2 linked regions of the Homo sapiens genome follow. The protein of the gene in region 1 purifies or fractionates together with the protein of each later gene. This does not show direct contact. Each region holds a gene or a part of one and is shown on either strand. Other genes may lie near its edges.

Region 1 (3,811 bases):
TGAACTCTCTTGAATTGGTATATTTTCCTACATGTTAATTGCTATATATTGTGTAAGTTAGATAAATAGCTCACTGAAAAGTGGAGAGCCGCATTAGGGATTTGTTCAGAATGCTGATGACTTCCACACTAGCTGTATACTGCTAAGAGCTGAGAGACTGTGTACTGAAAGCTTAAGAGCAGTGTCAAGAACTAGACAACCTGGCTAATTGTAAATGGCCCCCCTTTCAGCATTGACTTTGATGTCTCATTATGTCTTTCAAATGAGACCCTCCTTCTTCCCCCTAACCCTGCACAAAATTCACAATCCCTCCTCTGTCCCCCTTTTTATTGCTGTTGTCTAAAATATATTAGACATGGGAAAAATGACTCATTTTTAGAGCATCATGCCTAGTAATAATAGAATTTACATAAAAGCAGCATCTGAGAGAGATAGCCTTCTTTCTTTGGTTTCAATGGAAAACTTGCTTGATTTCAAAGGGCAGTCATAGTATAAACTGTCAGTCAAAGGGAGATAATGGGAAGGGAACTAAAACATATTGCAAACCTATTATGTGCCGGGTGTTCTAAATGTAATCATCTCTATTCCTCACAGCAATCCCGTAGGTAAGTATTTGATTATTTGCATCTCACACATACATGAACAAACTTGGAGAGACCAAGTTAACTTTCCAAAGGAACTAAGCCTATCTATATCTTAGGAGCTGGGATTTGATCCTTGAGCTCTGCTCTTGTCTGACTCCAAAGCTTAAGCTGTTATCACAATAAAACACAACATCAAGTGCTGTGTGGAGATTGTTGTTGTTGTGTAATGTACTTTCTCCAAGAAGCCAAAGTAGTTTCTAAACTGCTTGCTCAGGAGAAAACAGAGTGGGTCATGTGCAACAGAAGTATGTTACCTAAGGAAACACTTGCTCTTGTAACAAATAAAAACATTGTATGGCTCAACGCAATAGAAGTTTATTTTTCACCCGTGTGAAGTCCTGCCAGAGGCGCGTGAGGCTGTAGTGCGGTGGATGGTTCGGCACCCCAGACTGCCATCTTTACACTTGACCCCCACAGTTGCCCTGGCAACATGTAACAAGCTGACCAGGAGATGGGGGTGGGGAATGAGGAGAAGTGGAGCATGGTATGAGAGGTTTTTATGCTTTTAGGTGATGTATTTCAATTCCAGGCCTGGGAATGGAATACATTACTTGTGCCCACATTCTGTTGGCCTCCACTCAGGCAAATGACTCCACGTGATTGCAAAGCAAGGCTGGGAAATTAGTCTAGCTGGGTGCTAAGGAGGAAAGGGAAGTGGGTTTGGTGAACAGCCAGTGAGTCTCTGCACAGGAGTGGGAGTTTGAGATGAGTAATCCTATCTAACTGGATCCTAGAGGGAAGGTGGCTGCTAGTGTTCTAAGTTACTACTGATGTGAACAGATTCTGACCTTTGGCTGCCTAGTTGTTTTTGATAAATTAACTCTTAGAATAATGATGAATGTCTTGGCCGTTCCTCAAAAACCTTTGGCTGTTTGCAGCAGATGATGGATGTCTAGAAAACACCCCTGACACTGCAGAGTTCAGTCGAGAGTTCCAGTTGCACCAGCATCTCTTTGATCCGGAACATGACTATCCAGGCTTGGGCAAGTGGGTAAGTCCTATCTCAATTGTTAGTAGATTTTGCACTTTGGTACTCTGAAGGTGCTGATGGCAGGGATGAGCAATATGGGCAGAAGGAGAGAAGAAAAATTATTTAGAAGCTAATTTTTCAGAAATCTCTGGTTGACAGAGCTTCAAGTCATGACTACTCAAAACCACACTTATGTGTCCAGGCAGCACTATACCAAATCCAACTAAAGAGACAGCAACCTAACATTGACCATAGTCTCCAGAGTCTTCTACTCTGGTCTGCTTCACAGCCTGTGTCATACACATCCTAAATTTCACCAGTGTTTCATGCATCTCTATAGGGTTTTATCAAAGGATATGATTTTTTTTAATTGACACAGAAAATTTGCAAATGTGATCTCTAAACTAAGGGAGATGATCTCTGCAGAATCAAGGGAATAAAGATGCCAGAGCTTAGAAACAGATATATATAATTCTGCTTTATAGAAAGAGAAAAAATATTCCGTGATGTGTAGCAGTGAGATTGCTGTCAGTCCTAGGTAAGTGCATATAGCTGTCAGTTAAGGGAGTTGTTTATAAGCACTTGGAAAGATAAATCATGACCATTTGGCATCAGTGTGCTAAAAACAAGTCTTGCCAATCTAATTATATTCTTCCATTTGCCAGCATTATTCATTTATTTGCCAGCTTGATGAGGGAAATGCAGTGGGCATGGTGCATTTGGACTTTTGCAAAGCATTTGACAAGATCGTTTTATGTTCCCCTATTGGAAGAGGTGGAAAGATACAGCCTAGGCAACAGAATGTCACCAAAATGGGGCTTGTTAAAGAGTCCATGTAAATAGGGAGGGAGATTTCACATGGTATTCTGTGTGTCTTAGCACTACCCCACTCCACATTTTTATCAATGTTTGTAATAATATAGAACTTGTACTTATCAGATTCCCAGAGGATGACATGAAGTTGGAAGAGATACCATCAGATGACAGAGTTGGGATTCAAGAAGATCCCAGCAGACTAGAACAATGAGCCAAACAAGATCAGAACTGAGTGGGGATATGTCTGTGTTTCTGTGGTTGGGCCAGATGCTGAAGCCATGGGAGAAAAGTGGGGAAATACCTAGGAGTGTTCCTTCACATGTAACAGTAGGTGGCCAGTACGTCTGTGGAATGAATGAGTGAGTGAATGAGCAAATATTCCAACTCCCTCAGCCCTTCTAAAGTCCTCATCTCTTCTTAGCTCATTATTGGCAGATGGCCTTGCTTACTGCTTTACTGGGAACACTGAAATTTCAAAACTAAACTCCCTCCTTTCCTCCTACATTGTTTTAGAGAAATCTTCATTAATGACCACTTTTATTTTTTTCAGCGTCTTGCTTTAACATGCATTGTCAGTTCCCTCTGTCTTCAACATACACACATTTCCTGTCTTAAAACAACAAAGCAACAACATTCCTAAGTTAATTTTGCTTCTTCCAATTTGCATTATTCCATTTCCTTCTTTTTCATAAACAGTTCTGTTTGGAAGAATTGGTTTGTGGAGCCACTTTCAAGCCTAGTAGTAGAGCTTAAACATGTTGAATTAAATAGAAAAACATCTATAGGTTCTCGAATAGGAGACTGAAATAATAAAAGCCTTCTATAAAAGAAGTTATTTTGATGGCATATTAAAGGATGAAGTAAAAGGAGAAGAGACTAACCCTAGACAGGAAGAAAATATGGGGAGTCATTTCAGTTATGATGACTGTGAACACCGTGAAGAAGGGTGAGAATCCAAGACATTTTAAAGGGGGAAAAACTAACTAGAATTGGTATACGGAATAAATATAACATGAAGAAGAAAGAAGAGATATGTCAGGTTCATATGAAATGGACAATATGAACTTTTTCTTTGAATGCATTTTAGAAAGAAAGAAAAGAGAGGAATAGAGGGAGGAAGGACATAAAAAAGAGAAGAGAGAGTGAGGGAAAGAGTAGATTGCGGAGGAGTACTGGGAAGAGATCCACAAGAGGTGATCGAAGCATTGCCAAACAGAAGCAAAAGCCAGGTTCGATAAGGCACAAAGAGAACACATTGAGCCTGCTGTGTTCCAGGCACTGTGCTAGATGCTCAGTATGCAGGAGTCATCAGGACATGGTGCTGGTCTTCAGAGAGCTTATAGTCCCACGGTTGAGATGAATTGCATGAAAATGAAATGAA
Region 2 (4,515 bases), 8.3 Mb from region 1:
ATTCATGCTCCCTGTAAAAATCCAGACTTTTTCATTACTGTTTAAGTTTGATACTGAAAGTCCTCCTCTGGTGCCAGCCTCTGCTAACTGTTTAGGTATATTCTTCCAGATTATTTATTACACGAATACTTTTTGTTTTTAAAGAAATAGCTTTGTACTATACACACTGTTGTGCAAGTTTCCCACTTATATCTGCGACACCTTCGGAATGAATATGTGAAGTGTGAAGATCACGTTTAGTTTAAATATTGAATTAGAATCGAATGAGAAGCCATGTTGCACATTGCCCCTGCCAGCCATCTCCTGGCCAGTTTAGAGAGAAGGCCTTCAGCTGCCTCTGTTTCCCTTTTACAGTCAGTGACATCCCCTGAGGGCAGTCCCTTGCTGCGTATTGGGTCAACCCCCGGCGGCCTGTGGACTCGGCTGGGAGGCCAGAAGCCGAGGGAGAAGACCAGTAGCTGGCCATAGTCTTGTGGGGGCCTCACTGGGCCCTCCTTGCCCGCTGCTCCCGGAACCTTGTGCCTATGGATTAATCATTGCTGCAAAATCTCACGTCCAGGAAGAATTAAACCCATCGCCTTGGGGGCAAGACTAGCCTGGCTTTTGCATCTTTATAGCCTTTCTCCGCAGGTGCAGCCACCACCTCCAAAGTGACTGCCGGTCGGTCCAAGCGCTCTAACAGGCTCTTCCCCGAGCCTACCTGGGCTCGAGGGGTCCCACACCTGGTCCGGGGCGTAGCCCATGTGAGGCCTGCAAGCTCCGGGCGCCTGGCCTACCTAACTCAGCCCCGCAGTCTCTGCAGAACCCCCTGCAGCCCCGTGGCCCAGTTTCTCCATTTGCTCACAATGGCCAACGGCGTGAGGCACTTGAGCGGAATGCGGACGGTGCCTCCGACAGCTTTCCCGCAGTGCATGATCTCAGGAGGGGCCCCAGAGACGGAAGTTTACGACGCCCAGAGCGCTCCTTCTGGACGTGCCCTGGACTCGACTTGGGACTGAGTCTGTGCCGCCTAGGCTGGCAGGGACTCGGCCAGATGCACTAGCGGCAAGGCTGGGCTGACACCGCCTGGGACTCGCTCGCCGTACCTCCAAGGGGCCCAGGTCATGAGGGGGCGGCTGGGGAGACGCCCGCCCGGTGCCCGCCCTGGGCCCGGCGGGTGCCCCCTGCCCGCCGCCTGACGCAATCCGAGGCGCCCTTGCTGCATGCCGGCGCTGGAGAAACCTCCCCTGCCGTTGCATCACTCCTGCCAGGTTTGCCACAGAGGTGGAGCTGAACCAATCAGCGGGCGCGCTGGGCCCGCGGCGCGGTTAAGTGAGAAGCAGAATCCGAAGTTGATTGGCCAAAAGGGGATTTGCCCCACCCCAATCACCGCGGCAGCTGGCCGCGGTGGGCGTGGTCTCCCGGCAAGAAGGTTTAAAGGGCGCCTCCATGGGGGGCGCTCAGCTGGAGCTACCGAGCGGTGCCAGGCCAGGTGTGTGCGTCCGTCGGTCTTTCCGTGCCCACGCCGGAGACCAGCCCCGGAGGCCGCCTGGGCCTATCCCTGTGCCAGGCACCATGAAGCAGGAGTCTGCAGCCCCGAACACCCCGCCCACCTCGCAGTCCCCTACGCCGTCCGCTCAGTTCCCCCGAAACGACGGCGACCCTCAAGCGCTGTGGATTTTCGGGTACGGCTCCCTGGTGTGGAGGCCCGACTTCGCCTACAGCGACAGCCGTGTGGGCTTCGTGCGCGGCTACAGCCGCCGTTTCTGGCAGGGAGACACCTTCCATCGGGGCAGCGACAAGATGGTGAGCATCCAACCGTGCCCAGGGGAGTGAGGGGGTTGGGGGCGGGATACTGGGCGCCAGTGCCCTGGAATGTCCGGGGCTCTCTGGGCCAATAGAAAGAAATGTGTAAACCTGTGTCTGGGGTTTGTGGCTCATTTAAATGTATGTGCCCAGTGCATCACTGTGATGGCTGGAGTCTGTGAACCTGTGGATCCCTGTGTTGATCACCAACTGGGACCACTGACATGTCAGTGTTTCTGGACGTTTCTCCTACATCCGTGCATCGCTCCCCCACCTTCCCCTGCATGAATGGGACTCAGCATGCAGAGTGGGGCACTTGGAGGCCCGGGTCAGCGGGATTGATAAAGGTTTCCTTGCTGATGGCAGAGCTGATTTCTAACTTGTCTATTTCAAAATATTTCTTCCCTCCCTAGCCTGGCCGTGTGGTGACGCTCCTTGAAGATCATGAGGTAAGTGCCCGAATCATGAAGGGGAACCCTGGCCCAGTGTGAAGGGGGACCAGCAGAGAGAGCTCATAGGCTCTTGGCTGCAGGCTAGCTCTGTCTGATGCTTCTCTGGCAGAGTAGAAACGTGTTCTAGCTCAGTGCTTCTCACCAAATCACATGAGGATCTTGTTAGAATGCAGATTTTAGTTCAGTAGCATGAGAATGGGTCCTGAGACACAGCATTCCTAACTAGCTTACAGGTGATGCCACCACATCCTGGACCACACTTTGAGGAGGAATCCTGTCTTCCCTGGTACTAGACCACTTTGTCAACTGTTTTTTTTTTTTGTTGTTGTTGTTGTTGTTTTGTTTGTTTGTTTTTGAGACAGAGTCTTGCTCTGTTGCCCAGGCTGGAGTGCAGTGATGCAATCTTGGCTCACTGCAACATCTGCCTTCCAGATTCAAGCGATTCTCCCACCTCAGCCTCCCGAGTAGCTGGGATTACAGGCATGCGCTACCACACTCAGCTAATTTTTGTATTTTTAGTAGAGACGGAGTTTCACCATATTGGCCAGGCTGGTCTGGAACTCCTGATCTCAAGTGATCTGCCCACCCTCAGCCTCCCAAAATGCTGGGATTACAGGCATGAGCTACTGCACCTGGCCTCAACTATGCCTTTTTTTTTTTTTTTAAGACGGAGTCTTACCCTTGTCACCCAGGCTGAAGTCACTGCAACCTCCACCTCCTGGGTTCAAACGATTCTACTGCCTCACCCTCCCGAGTAGCTGGGTTACAGGCGTACGCCACCATGCCTGGCTAATTTTTGTATTTTTAGTAGAGATGGGGTTTCACCATTTTGGCCAGGCCGGTCTCGAACACCTGACCTGAAGTGATCCACCTGCCTTGGCCTCTCAAAGTGTTGGGATTACAAGCATGAGCCACCACGCCTGGCCTTTCAACTGTTCTTAACAAAGAGAGTACAAGGGCTTGAGGTACTGCCACCAGATGGCTCATCAGCCGACCACAGCCTCCCTTATAGAGCACAGTCCTGGGTGGGGGTGGCATGTTAGGATAGGAGAGGGAGCAGCAAGGAGCTGTCATGACTGACCCCGGGTGTCCCTATTTCTTCCCAGGGCTGCACTTGGGGCGTGGCATACCAAGTGCAAGGGGAGCAGGTAAGCAAGGCCCTGAAGTACCTGAATGTGCGAGAGGCAGTGCTTGGTGGCTACGATACCAAGGAGGTCACCTTCTATCCCCAAGATGCTCCTGACCAACCACTGAAGGCATTGGCCTATGTGGCCACCCCACAGAACCCTGGTTACCTGGGCCCTGCGCCTGAAGAGGCCATTGCCACGCAGATCCTGGCCTGCCGGGGCTTCTCCGGCCACAACCTTGAATACTTGCTGCGTCTGGCAGACTTCATGCAGCTCTGTGGGCCTCAGGCGCAGGACGAGCACCTGGCAGCCATCGTGGACGCTGTGGGCACCATGTTGCCCTGCTTCTGCCCCACCGAGCAGGCTCTGGCGCTGGTGTGAGGGGCTGAGCCCCTGCGGGGAGTGCTCATGTGGACATCAGGGCCAGACACCCACTCCAGTGCACAAGACAGACTTGCGACCGCTTGAGCCCACTGAGCAGATATGGTGGGTGGCTGGAGGCTTCTCTTTCTCAGTCCCTGCCTGTCTGCCAGCCTGCAGCTCTCCTGCTTGACACTGACTTACTACTTGAAACTTTATTTATTGCACCATGTTGGTGTGGTGGGCAGGTGGAGGGCCTGCCCTGGACACAGGGGCCCTGCTGAGCAGTGGCCCCATCCTGGAACTTGACCAGATTCCCCCCAGTGCTGCTGCTAACCCCACACCACCCAGGCCTCCACCTCCCCAGGGAGTCTCCAAGAGCCTCGATCCTCTGCTCACTCAGCCCAGCCATCCATAGCCCTGGGAATTCCACCTGCCAAGGATCCCAGCAGGCTGGATGAGGGATAGTAGGGCATGAGGAGAAGGAGCCCTGTAAGGACTGAGGCCCCGGCCAGCCCTTCTCCTCCACCAGTTCCCCAGAGCAGAGCTGGAGCTGATGCCTGGACACAGCTGCTGAGCCTGGCCTGGGCCTCTTACCCACTTGGTTGTTTTCTTGTCCCTCTGTCTGTCTGTCTATCTACTTGTCTGTCTGGGCCACTCCTGCCTGTGTGTTGGTCTATTCCTGGGAAGCTCATCACTACAGGCCCTGGCAACCTTCCCAGTCTGTCCCATACTGTTACCCATAAAACTATCTCTTTATCTGTGCTGTGCCGGAATGTGGTTCTTTCTCA

What was found.
Region 2: the proteins of SCG5 (region 1) and CHAC1 purify together in Homo sapiens (affinity purification with mass spectrometry; one large-scale study listed by BioGRID and IntAct). This does not show direct contact.

What each region holds. Positions count from the first base shown.
Region 1 is NC_000015.10:32,683,035-32,686,845, forward strand, and holds part of SCG5 (neuroendocrine protein 7B2 isoform 1 precursor), read left to right. Parts: intron 1-1,522; coding exon 1,523-1,635; intron 1,636-3,811. Other genes in the region: ARHGAP11A-SCG5 protein, read left to right, coding at 1,526-1,635. UniProt on the Homo sapiens protein: Acts as a molecular chaperone for PCSK2/PC2, preventing its premature activation in the regulated secretory pathway.
Region 2 is NC_000015.10:40,952,030-40,956,544, forward strand, and holds CHAC1 (glutathione-specific gamma-glutamylcyclotransferase 1), read left to right. Parts: upstream 1-1,441; 5' UTR 1,442-1,554; coding exon 1,555-1,785; intron 1,786-2,198; coding exon 2,199-2,234; intron 2,235-3,343; coding exon 3,344-3,745; 3' UTR 3,746-4,483; downstream 4,484-4,515. UniProt on the Homo sapiens protein: Catalyzes the cleavage of glutathione into 5-oxo-L-proline and a Cys-Gly dipeptide. Acts specifically on glutathione, but not on other gamma-glutamyl peptides. Glutathione depletion is an important factor for apoptosis initiation and execution.